Linked DNA regions of Homo sapiens: region 1 is linked to region 2. Evidence: fine-mapped expression QTL. Tissue or cell type: thyroid. Region 2 holds a variant in brackets; the other region holds the start of a gene. All regions are shown on one strand. Distances are from middle to middle.

Region 1 (2,803 bases), 23 kb before region 2:
TTCTGTGGCCTGTGTAGATTTCCTGTGCCTGGCACCCAGCTGCCTGCATACAGGAAGTGCTCATTACAGGCACAGCAGCAGATGTCAGCCCCAAAGTGTCCATTTTACTAGCTGGTGTTTCAGCATCTGTCACGGGGATCAACAAAGCATGACAGCCGCCAATGTGCCTCCGTGTGGACTTTTGTGATGCTGTATTTTCTCTTGAGAGGGGCCCCTGATTCTGGACAGAATGCACTGGGTAAGTCTTTACGACTTCGTAGCCCCAGGCTCCTGGCCCAGGCAGGATGAGGAAAGGATGCTGCCCCAGGATCGCCCGAAACGTTTGGTTTGTTTTGTGTGGCTGGACGTGGCCGAGTCCCTGCGGCCCCAGCAGCTCTCAGGCTTCCCTGCCCGGCTGCTGCCTCAGGGCTGCGCTGAGCTCAGGCCAGAGCAGCTTCCAGGGCCTCATTTCAGTTGTTTTTATCATCTATGAGTTATCCAGTGTTTCCAATAAATCACATTCCAGGGCAAGCAGTGCAGAGATGTGGGCCCTTATTTCCTCTCCCAGGCTGATAACAATGAACAAGTGATTTCCTGTCCAAAGCTGGGTACTCCAGCGAAATAAGAAGTCCTATCTCCAGGAAAATAACACTGTCTCTCTCTCAGCCCCAACTCCAGCACACCAAGCATGGACCGTCTCTGGCCCTTGGGCAAGCTGGAGCAGCCTTTCATTTCCTCTCTGCCTATTCATGCACGCCCCACCCATCTCCCAGTCCAGGCTGTGATCCTCACCACCCAGCAAGCAGGCGAGGCAGGGCTAGGAACCCATTTTACAGGTGAGAAAAGTGAGTTTGCCAGACATTAAGTGACATGGCCAGGGTCTCACCGGCAGTAAGTGGACAGGGCCAGGCCAGGTCGTCTCTGTGTTCCTAGGAGACCCTGTGATGACCACTCAGCCCCCTCTGCTGCTGCTGGTTGAGGTGAGAGGTGCTTATAACTCAGAGATCTTTGTCATTTGGGTTCTAAAAGCAAACTCCACCTTGTGACGCGCACCCCAATCCGCCAGCAGCTTCAGAAGCAGCATCTACCTGTAAGCTGCGCGGTCTCCCTCTCCCATCTCAACAACCTTCCTGTGTGCGGCTTCCCTCTCGGATCTGCACAACCCCCTTGTTGAGAAGAGGCAGCAGGAGCAGTGTGGGCGGTCATTGCCCTATTTTACAGATGAAGAGTCAGGGCATTTAAACAATTTGGTATGGATCTATACATAAGAGGGTGGAAGAGGCCAGAGGAGACCTAGACCTACTTATCTAAAACCCAGTCACTGATGCTGGGACACAGAACTGTCCTTCCTCGTCTGCCCCCTCCCTGCTCACGCTGTATTGGTGGAGACCTTGTCTCTCTTGGTGCCGTGGGAACAGCGCTGGGCCCACCCATCAAGGGCTCCCTGGAAGCGTGCTGAGCGTGTGGCATGAGGAAAGAGTCACCAGCCACCCACGTTGCCTCCACACTGGGTGTCATTGTGACCTTAGCAGACAACAGGGTCCTCCCGAGGAGAGAACACAGTAGGCACACTGGATGTGGGGAGAGGGTCCAAAAGCCCCAAGCAGGGGGCAGGTCTGGGCAGAGGAGAAGGCGCTGTGTCTGTGGTGGCACTGGATGCCTCGGAAGGTGTGTGGCCTCCCTCCATGGCTGCCCAGGACCCAGGGTGCTGACCGTCTCTCCTGGAGTATGGCAGGGCCCAGGGGGCTGAGGCAGGGCCCCTTTTGGCAAATTCTTCACTCATAGAGGTTTCATGTCTTTCTCTGTAAAATGAGGATGCGAACATAGTTTGTCTTTCAGGATAGCTGTGATTAGAACACGTGTGTAAAGCGCCTGTCATGGCAGCGTCCTTCTCCTGGCGGCAAGTCTTCACTTGCAAAACAAGTCCTTTTAGGTACAGCAAAAACTGCTGCACGCAAGGGGGTGGAGGGGAACGATGGAAGGCGGTGTTGAAGGGTGGGGTGGGGAGTGTGCAGAGGCACTGGAAACAAACTTTTCCAATTTCTGTTATGCCTAGGAACAGGCTTTGTGACAGCTGCTGCTATCCAGTCATCTTTAGAGCCCTGGAGTCCTCGCCAAGGGCACGGGCTCCCTTTGTGGTCCTGGAATAATGGGGCCTGCCTGGCACTCTCAGATTGCGTGGGGATCCGCTGGACTTAGGGTAAGGCTTTTGTGGGATAAACTGCAGTGGCGCTAGATCAATTGTCAAGGTTTGGCCGACTCATTTGAGAGACTGGGTTCACGCCGTGCCATTTCTTCTTCCCGTTGCAAGGCTCTGCAAGGAATGTGGTGTCAGAATTTTAGCGCCTCGTATTTCCCACAAATGATAGCAGTAAGCTAACCGCGCGATAGAGACAGCGCTTCATGTTGTGCAATTTGATTTGCTGAGATTCCCAGCTCTTGCGTCTTTGAAACGGCGGCTCTGTGCAGAGATGAGATGGTGTTCCCAGCTCATCGCAGCGTGCGTGGTAATCTTATGTTCAGGCACACACTCTTTTTGGAGAAAACATACATTCTTTAGTATTCATGTGGATTTCACAGCAGTAATGAGGAAACTCTATTCCTTAGAGAATGTTTTTAATGTTAAAAAAAAAAGGATGGCATTCTTGGGAGGCATTTTAGTTTTCCCGTTTTTATTTTCTGACGGTTTTCATAGACTAAAGACTGAGAATGCAGGAATACCTTATCTTATTCCAGAAATTATTTTTACCCAGACCTGTTGATTTTCCCCTTACATTTGTATAGATGTTACACTCTATCATATTTAGCTTAAACATAGACTGAG
Region 2 (2,803 bases):
TTCTCTGTACTTTGTCTCTGTGTCTCTTTCTTTTCCAAGTCTCTCGTTCCACCTAACGAGAAACACCCACAGGTGTGGAGGGGCAACCCACCCCTTCTGCCTACCCTGGACTGCTGTCTCTCAGCCCGCTCCGTGGCTGTCACCCTGGGAATGAGTCTGCCACGGTCCCGGGAATCCTCTCCCTGCTCTGGGACCCTGGGTTTTCTGCGTCCTGTACTCTCTGTCTTTTGTTCATTCATTTGTTTTTTGTTTATGCTCTTTTTTGAGTCCAGTCTAAAACACTGTGTTTTTAGTCCTTGCACACCTGGAAATGGCTTTATTCTACGCAACGTGATCATTTTGCTGGCTGAAGAAATCAAAAGCTGAAGCGAGGCTCCATGGTTTTCGAGAAGCTGGTGCTGCTGAAATCCACACGCCACTCTCTTTCTTTTCTTTGCATGTGACCTGCTTTTCCTTTCTGGAAGTCTTTAAGATCTTTTATTTATTTATTTTGGTTGTTTAAAATTTTATACACAGTGGCGTGCATCCTCCCTCATTTACTCCGATGGGTACTCAGTGGGGCTTTTCAGGTGAGAAAAAATGTCTTGTATTGTTTCTTTGATCATCTCCTTCCATCCATCCTCTTTTTTGATGTTTCTATTAGTTAGATGTTGGACAGCCTGTGCTAATCCTCTACATCTTTAACATTTTCTCTGTTATTCTTCATCTCTAGCAGATTTCTTTTACTTTATTTTCCAATTTGTCCTTTGAATTTCATCTATCATCATTTTAATTTTTAAAGAACTTTCTTTTTCTTATTCTCTTGTATTCCTTAAAAAAAAAAAAGCAAATTCAATAGTTCCCTAGTCTGAGAGCATTTCTTGTATATAAATCTTTCTTCAATTTTTCTGTGTTTGTTTTATCATGTGTTTCCTCCTGATTCTGTTTCCCCTTTTGTTCTCTATTTCATGCTTGGCTGTCTGCTCATATTTAACAGCGAGGAACTAAACATTTATTGGAAGCTCCCTGTGCATGGCAGAGTTTGCCAACTGGTTGACCTCAGAGTCGGGTTATGGGGTAGTGTGACAGGTGAGTCTTAGTATCTAGAGGTGCTTTTTCCGAAGCTGTTCAGTGATTCCTAGCAAAACTCTCTGATCTATTGCTTGGGATTTAAGCCTGGTGTTAGCAGCCTACTAGCAGGAGTGTGGCAGAGGGTGGAGGGGTGGTGATGGATTTGGGAAGCAAGCTGAGGGGACAGGTTCCCAGTGTGTGGAGTTTAATTAACCCCATGGAGTCCACCTTCACCTTCACCTGGTGCCCCAGGCACAGGCCCCTGTTGTTAGATTTTCTCTAGGAAGTGTCTTTTGTTTTCTGCTCTTGGTGTGTGTGGTCTGGGGAGGGGTAGAGAATGATCTGTTGTGTGCATTTGGAGGACCCCTGGGTTATCCACCCTCTCTGTGAATTCTCACCCAATCCCCCATTCCCGATGTCGCTCCTCATCCATGCCCGCCCCAACCCCAGCTCCTTTCTGTGCACTGGTGCCCTCCAGGTCTGACTCTCCTCCCTGGGGGGAGCCAAGTGGTCCCTCCTCGGTCCCCTCGTAGCACAGCTGGGTGGTGGCCTTGGCTCGCTCCGTCCCACCTCCTATTCAGGCAGTCTTGCGTCACCTACCGCCTACA[G/T]CCCCGTTCTCTTGTTCTCTCTGCTCTTGTATGTTTACAGCTTTCTAATTCCTTCATGGCTGTTTAGTGGAGCCTGAAGGGTGGGGCCTCGTGTGGCCCGTCTGCCCTCCTTCAGGCTGTGCCGCACTGGTGCGTTTGGTGTGTGCTTGGTGAGAGTCTTTGGGTCCTGCTCGGAGGAGGCAGGAGCGTGAACGGCGCTCCCAGGGCCAACCAACGGTCTGTGGTCATCAGCAGGCCTGGAGCTGCCTGTGCAGGGTGGAGGGGGCTGTTCTGGTCTTGGCCTCACCTCCTCTGCCACAGCTGCAAGTTTAAGTGCCTAACCCATCAGGGTCAAACCCAGGGGAGTGCTTCCGCTGGCAAGAAGGCCCACACAGAGAGGCGAGCCCTGACTTCCGCTGTGCGCCCAGCACTGTGACCCAGAAGGCCGGCCCCAGCGTTGGTCCTCGCGGGACGCTTGTGTGGACCCCGGTGAGGAGCAAAGGTGAACATGCTTGTCGTGGTGCAGCACACAGTGACCTGCGGCTGATTCCAGCTTCAGCTTGTTCTCTGTAGACCAGAAAAAGGCAGCTGTGAGCAGCGTGCGGGGAGAATGGTCCCAGGGGCTCGGCCTCCCACCTGCCTGTCTCAGGACCCCAGGGCGCTCCGGACCCCAGGTCAGTGTGGGGTGAGAGGGGCACTTGTCTCTACTCCTGGCGCTGCTCTCCCCAACATGGGGGCTAGGGAGGGTTAAAGGGGGTGTGAGGTCATGTGCCCAGATGTCCCCTCCAGTGGTCTGGGCGGGCACCCTGGTGCTTGTGCCGACCCCTTGGCCCCCTATCTCTTTGCTTGTGTGTCTGTGTCCTCGTCTCCTCTTTGTGTGAGGATACCAGTCCTATTGGATCAGGGCCTACCCTGATGGCCTCATTTATCTTAGTTACTTCTTTAAAGATCCTTCTCCAAATACAATCCCTTCCTGAGGTGCTGGGCGTGAGGGCTTCGCCAGATGAGTTTCAGGGAACATGACATCGTGCTGGCTCCTCGGAGGCTGTGAGGGCGGGGTCTGCTGCTGCTCCTCTCCTGGTGGGCAGGTGGCCGTCCTCATCTTCATGGGGACATTCTCTTTGCATGTGTGTCTGTCTCCAAATGTCTTCCTTTACACGGACCCC

Evidence for each region. PIP is the estimated chance that this variant, and not a neighbour inherited with it, causes the effect.
Region 1: it holds the start of LINC01250, and the variant in region 2 is fine-mapped to the expression of LINC01250 in thyroid (GTEx, PIP 0.93).

The regions. Positions count from the first base shown.
Region 1 is chr2:3,124,671-3,127,473 of GRCh38, reverse strand. It overlaps LINC01250 (long intergenic non-protein coding RNA 1250), which reads left to right and starts at 1,448. Exons shown (of 7, transcript NR_110228.1): 1 at 1,448-1,647; 2 at 1,819-1,912; 3 at 2,036-2,179. RefSeq lists a silencer at 1-67.
Region 2 is chr2:3,101,773-3,104,575 of GRCh38, reverse strand. All of the region lies in intron 3 of LINC01250 (long intergenic non-protein coding RNA 1250), which reads left to right. Among named protein-coding and RNA genes, the nearest start is that of LINC01250, 23 kb to the left of the region's middle. RefSeq lists enhancers at 1-56, 1,834-2,618. The variant G/T (reference allele first, on the strand shown) is at 1,659.